4 linked regions of the Homo sapiens genome follow. The protein of the gene in region 1 purifies or fractionates together with the protein of each later gene. This does not show direct contact. Each region holds a gene or a part of one and is shown in the gene's direction. Other genes may lie near its edges.

Evidence for each region.
Region 2: the proteins of ADK (region 1) and RBM12 fractionate together in Homo sapiens (co-fractionation; one large-scale study listed by BioGRID). This does not show direct contact.
Region 3: the proteins of ADK (region 1) and ADI1 fractionate together in Homo sapiens (co-fractionation; one large-scale study listed by BioGRID). This does not show direct contact.
Region 4: the proteins of ADK (region 1) and LGALS9 purify together in Homo sapiens (co-immunoprecipitation; one large-scale study listed by IntAct). This does not show direct contact.

Annotation. Positions count from the first base shown.
Region 1 is NC_000010.11:74,525,221-74,528,720, forward strand, and holds part of ADK (adenosine kinase), read left to right. Parts: intron 1-35; coding exon 36-206; intron 207-2,539; coding exon of another isoform or gene 2,540-2,554; exon of another isoform or gene 2,555-3,500. UniProt on the Homo sapiens protein: Catalyzes the phosphorylation of the purine nucleoside adenosine at the 5' position in an ATP-dependent manner. Serves as a potential regulator of concentrations of extracellular adenosine and intracellular adenine nucleotides.
Region 2 is NC_000020.11:35,651,663-35,654,900, reverse strand, and holds part of RBM12 (RNA-binding protein 12), read left to right. Parts: coding exon 1-2,377; 3' UTR 2,378-3,238. Other genes in the region: CPNE1 (copine-1), read left to right, coding at 1,359-1,373.
Region 3 is NC_000002.12:3,513,032-3,516,531, reverse strand, and holds part of ADI1 (acireductone dioxygenase), read left to right. Parts: exon of another isoform or gene 1-1,622; coding exon of another isoform or gene 1,623-1,724; intron 1,725-2,555; coding exon 2,556-2,675; intron 2,676-3,500. UniProt on the Homo sapiens protein: Catalyzes 2 different reactions between oxygen and the acireductone 1,2-dihydroxy-3-keto-5-methylthiopentene (DHK-MTPene) depending upon the metal bound in the active site.
Region 4 is NC_000017.11:27,629,814-27,633,987, forward strand, and holds the start of LGALS9 (galectin-9), read left to right. Parts: upstream 1-1,374; 5' UTR 1,375-1,452; coding exon 1,453-1,491; intron 1,492-4,174. UniProt on the Homo sapiens protein: Binds galactosides. Has high affinity for the Forssman pentasaccharide. Ligand for HAVCR2/TIM3. Binding to HAVCR2 induces T-helper type 1 lymphocyte (Th1) death.

The DNA of each region.
Region 1 (3,500 bases):
TATTTCTAATTTTCCCTCCTTTTTTCTTCATCCAGGGCTTTTTTCTTACAGTTTCCCCAGAGTCAGTATTAAAGGTGGCTCACCATGCTTCTGAAAACAACAGGATTTTCACTTTGAATCTATCTGCACCGTTTATTAGCCAGTTCTACAAGGAATCATTGATGAAAGTTATGCCTTATGTTGATATACTTTTTGGAAATGAGACAGTGAGTTACCTTTCCTTTTTCAAAAGAACCTGGGGGTTTTTTGTTTGTTTATTTCTGATGTGTGTATATATGTTTAGAAATATATAAATTAAATCCTAAATTTTTGTGTAAATGTCCTTGAGAATTGTGCAACAAAATTGCCTCAATGTCAACTGCTCTCAGTATTTTCAATATTTCCTTCAGTATATACTAACTTCTTTCTTAGTGAAGCATTTATTTATTTATTTTTATATTTTTATTTTTTTGAGGTGGAGTTTCCCTCTTTTCATCCAGGCTGGAGTATAATGGCATGATCTTGGCTCACTACAACCTCTCCTTCCCGGGTTCAAGCAGTTCTCCTGCCTCAGCCTCCTAAGTAGCTGGGGTTATAGGCGCATGCCACCATGCCCAGCTAAATTTTGTGTTTTTAGTAGAGACAGGGTTTCACCATGTTGGCCAGGCTGGTCACGAACTCCTGACCTCAGGTGATCTGATCGCCTCAGCCTCCCAAAGTGCTAGGATTACAGGTATGAGCCACTGTGCCCGGCCCAACATTTATTTTTTTAAGGTGTTTGACGTTTGATTTACTTATAGTAAGAGTCATCCTTTTTACTGTAATTTCTGTGAGTTTTTACAGATGGATACCTGTCCTGTTACTATGACCACAATCAGGATAAAAAAGCACATTCATCACTTTTTTAAGTCTCTTCAGAGTCTAAGTCCATTTGATATTTGTTTAATAAATTATGAGTAAATTTTGATATATTACATTTATATTTCTTTATTAATAATATTTTTAAAATATTGTCTGTTATAGTTGAAGGTGATAAAATGGAATTTCATCTCAACAAGTACAGTTTTTTCTTTCTACCAAGAATGTATTTTCTTCCATTCTAAATTATGGAAATGCTTATTTACTTAAATGCTTATTTACTTTGATTGCTTGTTTACTGTTTATACCTCTTATTTACTGTTTATACCTCTTTAAAAATCCATGAAAGAGGAAAAAATCCTTCAGTGTGTCTTCCTATGACTTGGCCATGTCACTTGATGGTTTAATGTATACAATGAAGGTATTGTATTAATCATCCCAGAAGTTCATTCTGATTCTAATTCCATAGTTCTAACATAGTTTGAATATATTCATCAATTTTATATCTAATAACTGCCATCTGCCTAGAATAACATAAAAATTGACCTGGAAGTTTACGAGATCACCTGGGTAAAGATTAAAGGATGATCCATAGAAATAATATCACAGTGTATCTGCAAAGGTGATGGTTACATTGGTTATAAATGGTGACATTGGAAGGAAATGCTATATTCTTGATAATTCACAAATTGAGATACTGGCAAGAAATAGTGGTAATAGCCAAGTGCCATATAACTGCTAGAAGCCTAATTTGACTAAGATCTACCATTTAGTTTTTCCTTATTAACAGTTTTATTTTGTAAAGGGTAAAAGAAGTAAATGGGAAAAGTGCTATTCAAGCCTTTTGAATAACATTAAAGCATTGGTCTCAGTAGTCTTGAGAATCATTGGGAGAAGTTAACATTTGGTCTCAGAGTTCTAAATAGTCAAGAAAGATCAGACTGGCAGCACTTAAATAAGTTCTCTAGAGTTTAAGAGACAAATCTTAAAACTTTTAAAAAAGATAAATATGATTCCAAAGAGGCCGGGCACGGTGGCTCACGCCTGTGATCCCAGCACTTTGGGAGGCAGAGGCGGGTGGATCACGAGGTCAGGAGATTGAGACCATCCTGGCTAACACGGTGAAAGCCCGTCTCTACTTAAAATACAAAAAATGAGCCAGGCGTGGTGGCGAGTGCCTGTAGTCCCAGCTACTCGGGAGGCTGAGACAGGAGAATGGCGTGAACCCAGGAGGCGGAGCTTGCAGTGAGCCGAGATCGCGCCACTGCACTCCAGCCTGGACAGAGCGAGACTCCGTCTCAAAAAACAAACAAACAAAAAAAAAAAAACATAAATATGATTCCAAAGAATGAAACTTTGGAAGTAAAGAAAGCTTAGGGAGATTGAATGCCATAAAAAATGCTATTTGGACTTTATAGTCACAAATGATCTTAATTAAGGAGAGAATGTGGAGGGACCTTTTGAAAAAATATAGCAGAGCACGCAGAAAACTCTTTAATAAGAGCTCAAATTTGGAGGATAACGAGATAGCTGCCTCTGCCTTTGCCGGTGCAGTGAGAGCAGCTTCAGGAATCTTATGGCCTCTGAATATTTTGGCATCTTCAGCCTACCAAAACTGTGTCAAAAATGCCTCTCTTATTTCTGCATTGTCCACTGGACGTTTTAGTCATATTCAGACACCAGTTGTTTCCTCCACTCCCAGACTTACCACATCTGAGAGAAACCTGACATGTGGGCATACTTCAGCGATCCTTAATAGAGTGGCCCTCTTGCTTCCAAGTGTCTTGAAGCTGCCAGCCAGATCTCTAACATACGTCAGTACAGGAAAAGGCAAGAGAAGGATTGTGAAAGCTGTCATCTATAGGTTTCTTCGACTTCATTGTGGCCTTTGGATGAGAAGGGCTGGTTATAAGAAAAAATTATGGAAAAAGGCACCTGCAAGAAAAAAGCGATTGAGGGAATTTGTATTCGGCAATAAAACCCAGAGTAAACTCTTAAGATAAAATGACGACGTCCTTCTGGAAGAGGTGAAACTGGTATGTCCATGATCCTTATCAGAAGTGTCATGATCGAACAAACCTGAAAGTATAGATCAGAAGTTTCACTTGTTTCTCAGTTATTGAATATGTATCTTTGTGTACATATCTGCAAAAATGGATAAGTAAAAATCTCGATGTAAATTGTATCAATGAATATGTAAACATACAGTGACAACACTGAACTTATAAAAGTTTTAAAACTTAAAAAAAAAGCTCAAATTTGTAAAAGACATGTAAAAAGAAGGTGGAAAATGTATTTAGAATCAGGGAATGATGCTAAAAGTTTGGTAGAGACAAAAGAGAAAAGAAAGTCCCAAAAGTGGTTTAAGTTTGCAGCAGATGCTGATGATATCAAAACAATCTTCACTTAAAAAAAAAAAAAAGACTCCAAAGTACAAGCAACAAATGGAAAAAATAGATAAATTAGACATCATCAAAATTAACAATTTTTGGGCATCGAAGGACACTAACAAGAATGTGAAAAGACAACTAGTGGAATGGGAGTTAATATTTGCAAATCATATATCTGATAAAGGATTCATATTCAGAATATTTAACACAGTAACAACTCAACAATAAGCAAACTAACAACATAATTCAATAATGATCAAAGGAATTTAATAA
Region 2 (3,238 bases), on another chromosome or scaffold:
TGAAAGCAACAAAAACATACAGACATTTTCCACAGCCAGCGTAGGAACAGCTCCTCCAAATATGGGGGCTTCCTTTGGGAGCCCAACGTTTAGCTCAACTGTTCCAAGCACAGCCTCTCCAATGAACACAGTCCCGCCGCCACCAATTCCTCCAATTCCAGCGATGCCATCTCTGCCACCAATGCCATCCATTCCCCCAATTCCAGTTCCTCCTCCAGTACCTACATTGCCTCCTGTGCCTCCTGTGCCCCCGATTCCCCCAGTTCCTTCTGTGCCACCCATGACCCCACTGCCACCCATGTCGGGCATGCCGCCCTTGAATCCGCCACCTGTGGCACCTCTACCTGCTGGAATGAATGGCTCTGGAGCACCTATGAATTTGAACAATAATCTGAATCCTATGTTTCTTGGTCCGTTGAATCCTGTTAACCCTATCCAGATGAACTCTCAGAGCAGTGTGAAGCCACTCCCCATCAACCCTGATGATCTGTATGTCAGTGTGCATGGAATGCCCTTTTCTGCAATGGAAAATGATGTCAGAGATTTTTTTCATGGGCTCCGTGTTGATGCAGTGCATTTGTTGAAAGATCATGTAGGTCGAAATAATGGGAATGGATTGGTTAAGTTTCTCTCCCCTCAAGATACATTTGAAGCTTTGAAACGAAACAGAATGCTGATGATTCAACGCTATGTGGAAGTTAGCCCTGCCACAGAAAGACAGTGGGTAGCTGCTGGAGGCCATATCACTTTTAAGCAAAATATGGGACCTTCTGGACAAACTCATCCCCCTCCTCAGACACTTCCCAGGTCAAAATCGCCCAGTGGGCAGAAAAGATCAAGGTCAAGATCACCACATGAGGCTGGTTTTTGTGTTTACTTGAAAGGGCTACCATTTGAAGCAGAAAACAAACATGTCATTGATTTTTTTAAAAAGCTGGATATTGTGGAAGATAGTATTTATATAGCTTATGGACCCAATGGGAAAGCAACTGGCGAAGGCTTTGTAGAGTTCAGAAATGAGGCTGACTATAAGGCTGCTCTGTGTCGTCATAAACAGTACATGGGCAATCGCTTTATTCAAGTTCATCCAATTACTAAGAAAGGTATGCTAGAAAAGATAGATATGATTCGAAAAAGACTGCAGAACTTCAGCTATGACCAGAGGGAAATGATACTAAATCCAGAGGGGGATGTCAACTCTGCCAAAGTCTGTGCCCACATAACAAATATTCCATTCAGCATTACAAAGATGGATGTTCTTCAGTTCCTAGAAGGAATCCCAGTGGATGAAAATGCTGTACATGTTCTTGTTGATAACAATGGGCAAGGTCTAGGACAGGCATTGGTTCAGTTTAAAAATGAAGATGATGCACGTAAGTCTGAACGCTTACACCGTAAAAAACTTAATGGGAGAGAAGCTTTTGTTCATGTAGTTACCCTAGAAGATATGAGAGAGATTGAGAAAAATCCCCCTGCCCAAGGAAAAAAGGGATTAAAGATGCCTGTGCCAGGTAATCCTGCAGTTCCAGGAATGCCCAATGCGGGACTGCCCGGTGTGGGACTGCCCAGTGCAGGACTTCCCGGTGCAGGCCTGCCCAGCACAGGACTGCCTGGTTCAGCAATAACCAGTGCAGGACTGCCTGGTGCGGGAATGCCCAGTGCAGGAATACCTAGTGCAGGAGGTGAAGAGCATGCCTTCCTGACTGTAGGATCAAAGGAAGCCAATAATGGGCCTCCATTTAACTTTCCTGGTAATTTTGGTGGATCAAATGCCTTTGGGCCACCAATCCCTCCTCCAGGATTAGGAGGCGGGGCCTTTGGTGATGCTAGGCCTGGTATGCCTTCAGTTGGAAACAGTGGTTTGCCTGGTCTAGGACTGGATGTTCCGGGTTTTGGAGGTGGACCAAACAATTTAAGTGGGCCATCGGGATTTGGAGGGGGCCCTCAGAATTTTGGAAATGGCCCTGGTAGCTTAGGCGGTCCCCCGGGGTTTGGAAGTGGCCCTCCTGGTCTTGGAAGTGCCCCTGGGCATTTGGGTGGGCCACCAGCTTTTGGGCCTGGCCCCGGCCCCGGCCCCGGCCCTGGCCCAATCCATATTGGTGGTCCCCCTGGCTTTGCATCTAGTTCTGGAAAACCAGGACCGACAGTAATTAAAGTGCAAAACATGCCCTTTACTGTGTCTATTGATGAGATTTTAGATTTCTTTTATGGCTATCAAGTAATCCCAGGCTCAGTGTGTTTAAAATACAATGAAAAAGGTATGCCCACAGGTGAAGCCATGGTGGCCTTTGAGTCTCGGGATGAAGCCACAGCTGCTGTCATTGACTTAAATGACAGGCCTATAGGTTCAAGAAAAGTAAAACTTGTATTAGGGTAGCCATTCACATCATTTTTTATAGGGTAGATCTTCATATTGCTGTGATTAATGCATCCAGATTGTTTTCCTAGTATTTCCAGGTTAGAACCTGTGGATTGTTTCAATTGCATATAGCTTGGTTTCCATAACATAGAGCATTGGTTGACTGTTTACAGAAGACTCACTCACCAGGATAAACATTGCTGTATGTTACAGTAAAGCTATCTGGAGAGAACACATAAATGATTTTGGCATACCATTAGAGAAACCATTTGTAAAACTCAAATGACCACATAAAGCTTATCAAGGAGTCTAGATTGGTTTTGTTTTATACCATATGGGATGAAGAAAATAGAAATGTCAGTAGAACTCATTGAGGGTGCTCTTGCCAGCTGCTGAAAATAGAAGTTGGCTACTCTCAGAATTTGGTTTAAAGCTGGACAGATTTGCTTTGTTATAGGGTAAAGCTTTGTCTAAAGTCCTCATTTTCTTTTAAAATTGAATAAAATTTCTGTATACAGATTCATTGTATGTACCTTTATTGCTTCTTAAGGGTCCTTGCTGTATAGACAGTCCTGCTTCAGAAGTTGCTGCTTTGTTTGTCTAATTGACTCATTTGTAAATGAGCAGAACTGTTTTGTTGGTTTTTTTCCCTAAATATAAAAGTCCACACTTCGTTTGTGCTATAACCTCAAACTTTGATTTCTAATGTCACACTTAAAACTGTGTGGAATAAGACTTTTGCCATAAAAATAAACTATGGAGTCCTTTATCTACCAGAGCCTTTTTGGTTTGACCGCCACGATTTAGGTTAGTCAGTTTAAAAATTGTTCATGTTGTTTGGATGGTATCGAAAACCAGAAACCACTTTTAATAATGTGT
Region 3 (3,500 bases), on another chromosome or scaffold:
GGGGCAAACTGCTCTCTTACATCTCTCTTGCTCTTTTTTTTTTTTTTTTTTTTTTTTGAGATGGAGCCTCGCTCTGTCACCCAGGCTGGTAGCGCAGTCTTGGCTCACTGCAACCTCTGCCTCCTGGATTCAAGTGATTCTCCTGCCTCAGCCTCCCGAGTAGCTGGGATCACAGGCGTGGACCACCATGCCTGGCTAATTTTTGTATTTTTAGTAGAGATGGGGTTTCACCATGTTGGACAGGCTGGTCTTGAACCCCTGACCTCAGGTGATCTGCCCACCTTGGCCTCCCAAAGTTCTGGGATTATAGGTGTGAGCCACAGTGCCCAGCTCCATCTCTCTTACAAGGCCACTAATCCTATAAATGAGGGCTTGCCCTCATGACTTAATCACATCCTAAAGGTCCCACCCCTTAATACTATCACATTTGTGTTAAGTTTCAACATTCGTATATTTAAACTTATGACACGTGTCATATAATGTGTCATATTACATATTATGTGTCATAATATGGACACATTCAGACCATAGCAAATAGTACTGTGCATATCATGCAGTGGATAGGCTAAGTTTTAGAGTCAACTTTGTAGAAAATAACGTATTGATGACTAGTACTTTAATATGTTCTGGAGTATCGGGGGAACCCACCCCCAATATTTCAACATAGGTTCCATTTTCCATAAGTGTCGGCCAGCTGAGAAATAAAGAGAGACAGTATAAAGAGAGGAATTTTACAGCTGGGCCGCCAGGGGTGACATCACATATCGGTAGGACCGTGATGCCCGCCTGAGTCTCAGACCAGCAAGTTTTTATTAAGGGTTTCAAAAGGGGAGGGGGTGTAAGAACAGGGAGTAGGTACAAATATCACAGGCTTCAAAGGGCAAAAAGCAGAACTACTAATAAGGGTCTAACAAAGATCACATGCTTCTGAGGGAACAGGACAAAGGGCAAAAGCAGAACCACTGATAAGGGTCCAACAAAGATCACAGGGCAAAGGGCAAAAGCAGAACCACTGATAAAGATCTATGTTCAGTGCTGCACATATTGTCTTGATAAACATCTTAAATAACAGAAAACAGGGTTCGAGAGCAGAGAACTGGTCTGACCACAAATTTACCAGGGTGGAGTTTTTCCCCACCTTAGTAAGCCTGAGGGTACTGCAGAAGACCAGGGCGTATCTCAGTCCTTATCTCAACCGCATAAGACAGACATTCCCAGAGCAGCTGTTTATAGACCTCCCCCCAGAAATGCATTCCTTCCCCAGAGTATTAATATTAATATTCCTTCCTAGGAAAAGAATTTAGTGATACCTTCTCTACTTGCACGCCCATTTATAGGCTCTCTGCAAGAAGAAAAATATGGGTGTTTTTGCCTGACCCTGCAGGCAGTCAAACCTTATGGTTGTCTTCCCTTGTTCCCTAAAAATCGCTGTTATTTTATTTTTTAAGGTGTACTGATTTCATATTGTTCAAACACACATGTTTTACAATCAATTTGTACAGTTAACACAATTATCACAGTGGTCCTGAGGTGACATACATCCTCAGCTTACGAAGATAACAGGATTAAGAGATTAAAGACAGGCATAATAAATTATAAAAGTATTATTTGAGAACTGATAGATGTCCGTGAAATCTTCAAAACTTATGTTCCTCTGCCATGGCTCCAGCCGGTCCCTCCATTCGGGGTCCCTGACTTCCTGCAACACTGGAGTTTGTTGTTCAGTAAGTAGTGATGATATAATGTGCAGTTTATTGCAAAACATAAAGTGTGCTAGATTCACTGCCAGTAGTTTTAAATAAGAGTTCAGATGAATTCTGCCTGGAGCTTCATCAGGGAAGTGCTTCGTCAGGAAGGAACAGTAAAACTGAACCTTAATAGAGATAGGATTGTGATAAATGAAAATGTTGAATGGGAATTTTAGGCATAGAAAGCTGTCATGAGCAAGGTTGTGGGGATGTGAAATATCAAATATTTTTAAGATAGCCGATCATCCTATTTGGTTTAGAATGTAGAGTTCTTTAAAAAGTAGGAGATGGGAACAGATAGAAGTAGAAAAGTCAGCTGGGGCCAGATGATAGAAGGTTTCTCATTCCAGTTTAATTAACTTGAGTTTTATTTGCAAGCTGTGAGAGCATACAATGTTTTGGCTCATGGAAACAAACTGACCAAAGAGATGGCATTGAGGATCAATGAGACTCATGAGTGGGATGGTGGCAGAGAAACAGGGCACAGTGAGGGACCTGTGGAGTGGACAGAAAGGCCTGAGGTGGTGAGACTACCATCTCAAAATGGGAAAAAGAATCCCCTGGGATGGACTGTTGCAGAGAAGGGAGGCAGAAATCAAACAGAACTCCATTGTATGTATAGCTGGTGTTTTGGAGAATGGAAAATCCATTAAATGGCTAGAGGAGATGAAGAGAGTTAGTTGAGGGTTGAAAAAATAACAAATGATAAATTTGGAGTATAAAATCATATTGGAGATCCAGAAAGAGAATGTTTCTACATCTCCTTGTTAATCTGAGCTCTTGTTTTTGGTGGGTTAACTCTTTTAGCTGGATGCTGACAAATATGAGAATGATCCAGAATTAGAAAAGATCCGAAGAGAGAGGAACTACTCCTGGATGGACATCATAACCATATGCAAAGATAAACTACCAAATTATGAAGAAAAGGTAAGGGAGCCCTGGATTACCTGGAAAAGAAGTATCATTATATTCACTACTAATAGACGCAATATTTTCTTTCTTTTTTCTTTTAATGTCTGTATGAGGCCATTCTTGCTTTGCTATAAATAAATACCTGAAACTGTGTAATTTATAAGAAAAGAGATTTAATTGGCCCACAGTTCTGCAGGCTCTACAGGAAGCATGTGCTTCCTGTCACCACCATCTGCTTCTGGGGAGGCCTCAGGAAGCTTACATGGCAGAAGGCAAAGAGGGAGCAGGCTTCTCACATAACAGGAGTGGGAATGAAAGAGAGAGCAAGGTGCCACACTGTTTTAAATGACCAGATCTCACAAGAAGTTACTCACTGTAGTGAGGATAGCACCAAGAAGATAGTGCTAAGCTATTCATGAGAAATCCACCCTCATGATCCAGTCACCTCCCACCAGGTCCCACTTTCAATACTGGGGATTACATTTCAATATGAAATTTGGGTGGAGACACAAATCTAAACTGTATTATTCTGCCCCGGCCCCTCCCAAATCTCATGCCCTTCTTGAATTTCAAAATACAATAATCTCTTCCCAATAGTCCCCCAAAGTCTTAACTTCCTCTAGCATTAACTTAAAAGTCCCAAGTTCAAGTCCAAAGTCTCATCTGATACTCATCTCCTTTTACCTATGAGCCTGCAAAATCAAAACAAGTTAGTTACTCCCAAGATACAAAGCGGGTAAAGGCATTAGGTAAATATTCTCATTCCAAAAGGGGGAAATTGGTCAAAAGAAAGGAGCTACAGGACCCATGAAAGTTCAAAACTCAGCAGGGCAGCCACTA
Region 4 (4,174 bases), on another chromosome or scaffold:
TGTAGGGACAGGGTCTTCCAACCTTTCCCGAGCTGGTCTCAAGCTCCTGGGCTGAAGTGATCCTCCTGCCTCAGCCTCTCAAAGTGCTGGTATTATAGGCATAAGCCACCACGCCCTGCCCATTTTTCTAAGTTGGATTATTTTACACTCCAGTCTGCTGTGAATGAGAGTTCCAGTTGTTGCGTATCGCAATCAATTTGTGATTGCCTACAAATGATGTGCCGTGATGAAATTGTCCCTGGTGTCCGAGAGGATCGCAAAGAATTTCCCTTCCTTTCTCTCCTTTCTGCTCCCCTTGTACTGTCTACTCCTTAAACTGGTACTTGATCCAGGAACATAATGGGGATGGACAGTGCAGATGGCACACATGGCCTCAGTCTATTGGAGCATCTCAAAGGAATTAGTCTGCAAATTCTAGTGCATCTAGGTGGAGCACAGGAAGGAAGAGAGGTGCAGACTCACGTATGGCCCTGGGGCACCTGCCATCCTCTCGCACCCGTACAGCCCTTACCTGCCAGCACTTACCCTACCCAGCTTGAGTTCTGGGCCTTCTCACCAGCACATCGCTGGGACCTGGTCGACTTCAGGTAAGTTTATTTCATGGCTCCCTCCCCCACGACCTGCACATGCCATATGTTCCTTCCCAGCCCCATGTCACTTGAAATGTTCTATCATGTCCAAGACTTCTCTCCTCATCCTAAAGTGCAGAAAATAAGGATGGAGAAGAGAAGGAGAAGAGAATCAAGAGAGATTCATTGAGAGGGAGGATCAGAAGCTCCTGGGCACCCCATACTGTAGAATAAAAATATTCATTATGGTGTTTTTCTTGCAAAATATTCCCCTCTACATAATTATGTTTTTACATGAATAATATAAATTTAAACAGGAGAAATACTTTTTGAAGAGTCTGAGAATCTTCATAAAGTTCAGGCGGCCACGAATTAGCTGTGTGACCTGGGGCATGCCCCTTAGACTCTGAGCCTCAGCTTCTCTGTATGTAAAATGGGTTGAAGCCGCCCTTCCCCACAAGCACCCTGTGCACAGGCAATGCCCAGCCCCATTATTTTCTGGACTCCGTGGCCAAGCATGCTTAGGACACACAGCCACATACTTCTGGGCAGTGTCATCTGGCAACTTGCTGTCATGTCAGTGTGGTCAAGCATTGTAGACCTCTATGAACCAAATATGCTTCAGGCTTGGGTTGAGCACAGGAGAGGGAGGAGGGAAAGGTCACTGGGGCTGGGAGTGCCTACTTCCCTCTGTGAGTGTCACCCCAGTCCACCCAGTACCATACCTTTCTCTCTCTGGACCCACTTCCTTTTGCTGCCGGCTCCTCCCCATTGAATAACAGCCAAGTTGCTTTGGTTTCTATTTCTTTGTTAAGTCGTTCCCTCTACAAAGGACTTCCTAGTGGGTGTGAAAGGCAGCGGTGGCCACAGAGGCGGCGGAGAGATGGCCTTCAGCGGTTCCCAGGCTCCCTACCTGAGTCCAGTGAGTTCCAGGGCTATGGGCACAGGGCTGCCTCAGCCAGAGGGACACAGCTCTGGGGCTCTGAGGAAGCAACTCCTGGGTGGCAGGGGATGGGGGTGGGGGCATCCCAAAGAGAACACAAGCAGGGCAGAAATATCAGAGGAGGTCATCCTGGCACACCTGTGCCGTGCTGAGCTCACTCATGCCTGGAGGGATGCTCCTTCCCACGAGTCATGGCTTTGACAGTGTTGACTGAGCTGTCCTGTCCTGTCCTGTCCTGTGTGCTCAGGGGAAGACATGTAGAGCGGGGTGGTTCATGTAAAGAGGAAGCAAGCACGCTTCTGGGACAGTAAGGACGCTACCCGGCATGGTAGTTAAGGGTGCTTACTGTGAAGGTGGCCTCCCTGGGTCCAGCTATTTACTGGCTGGTGGTCTCTGGGCCTCAGTTTCCATATCTGTGAAGTGGGAATAATACTTGAGCCCCCCACTCCCAGGGTTGGGATATGGATTAAGGAAGTAGTGTATCTAGTGTGTTTGAACAGTGCCTGACACACTGTAGGTGCTTTGGGAGTGTTTCATGTTATTGGGTGTCTGAGGGCAGCAGGGAAGACCTCCCGAGGAGGTGTCTGTGCTCTGAAGGTTGGGCATGGGCATGTTCAGGGCATCTGTGGAGGGGCAGTCTCAGAGGTGAGAGGGGGGTGAGGACTGTCCCTGCAGCGTGGGGTCAGAGGGCGGCAGGTGCCTTGCTGAAACCCTGTGAGGTTTATGAGTCCCCTTCATACACGGAAAATCTGAGGCTCAGGGAGGCAGAGGCCAGTTGCCAAATGCCTCCAGATGGGAGTGGCAGCCCCAGGAGCCCAGGAGACTTCAGGGGTCACTGTGTCCTGGGCCGGCTCCTGTCATAGGATCTCACCCCGCCTTGGCAAAGAGCTTCCCGAGGGGCTGGAGAGGGTGGGCTGATGGGTCCTTCCTGGGTGGGGAGGCAGGGTGGGGAGGGTGGGCAGAGGCAGGGTACTGAGGGAGGGAAGCTGCCATGGCCCACCTCAGCAGAGGCCAGGGTCGGGCTTGAGTGCCCCCTGGTGACACTGAGTCCAGAATGAGGCTGCCTACGTTCTGGTCTGCAGAGCTCGGCTCTGCTTTCTAAACTCCAGAGAGAAAGAATGGGGAAAGGAGGCCTGTTTCCTCCTGGCTGTCACCAATGACACCTCAGCCACCCTGTGGAGGCCCCTGAGGTAGGACCTGCACAGAGGGGGCTGGGGGAAGCTGGAACAGGCCGCTGGTGGGGGCCTTAGGGTCAGCAGGTGCTGCCTTGGGCATGTCACCCTGTCTCTGGTTTTCTGTCAAAGAGGGGATCCCAGAGCTTCTTCCAGGTTCTGACATATTATTATTCTGGTGACTGGTTTTTACTTTCTAATCCTTGGATTCAGAAGGAAAATTATCCTACGGACATCAGAGAGTTAAAACAGGGCCTTGGAGTCCAGACAAGAAAGATGATCAGTGCAGCCCCTATGGGTGTCCAGAGTACCCCTCTACCCCACGGGGGCTCCCCTGGGTTGGGACAATTAAGCCTCACTTGGTGACCCATCTGGCAGTCGGAGCCACGCTTCCTCCACATGCCGACAGTGGGGGAAGGTCACGCGGTTCGCTGTCCTGCTGAGGAGGGCTGAGTGCCATGAGGGCCTGGCTTGGAAACCTCACTCCCACTTCTTGTCTGGCCTCATCTAGCCCAGCCTCTTTGGAGGGCCTGGGGGAAGCTGGAACCACGTGCTGTGTGGTCCAGGAAGCACTGGGAGAGCCAGGAATAAGGATGTTCTCAGCTTACTCATGAGAGGAAGCCTGTGTGGTGGTTAGAAGCGTGGGTGCTGGGGTTCAAATCCCAGCTCTGTTGCTGACCAGTTGTGTAACTTTGAGCAAGTGACTGAACTTTTCTGTGCCTCAGTTTCCTCATCTGTAAAAGTGGCCGGGGTTGCTGTGAGGATAAATGTTCCTAGTCATGCCCAGAGCCCTCATGGACACACATGGATCCAAATGCCACAGCAGCCTTAGCTGGTCAACCTCAAAACAACACATTTGTTCTTACAGTGTTGGAGGTCAGAAGTCTAAAATCAAAGTGTCATGGAAGGTGGCCAGCAGGACCATGGAGCCTCTGAGGCAGCGGGGCACCTTGGCTAAGAGCCACGTACTGGCCTCCTGCTGGCACGCAGTCTTGGCCAGCCAGGCTGAGCTCCCCACTTCGGGGTCGGGCCTGGGTGTCCTCTGGTGATGCTGAGTCCAAAACAAGGCTGCCCACATTTTGGTTCACAGGGCTCAGCTCTGCTTTCTAGACTTCCAGATAAGAAGAGGAGGAAAAGTCCCCGGTCTCTGGGCACTATCAGGAACAGAGAGCAAGTCATGACTCAGCAGAGGGATCGATTTGTTCAATGCAAAGAGCTGCACTGTCATGTCTGACATGAGCCAGGGGCTCAGCACACGGAATCGCACCCAGTCCTCTCAGAACGCTGCCAGCCAGGGGCTCAGCACACAGCGTTGCACCCAGTCCTCTCCAGAACACTGTCGGGTGGTGTTACTGTCCTGCCATTCAGAGGAGGGAACTGGGGCACAGGCAGGTCAAGTGACTTGGCCAGTGTCAGAATTGCTAGTGTACAGAGCTGGGAGGCAAGCCCAGTCCCGTGGGACCATAAATCCAGTGTGAAAATCCATCCTC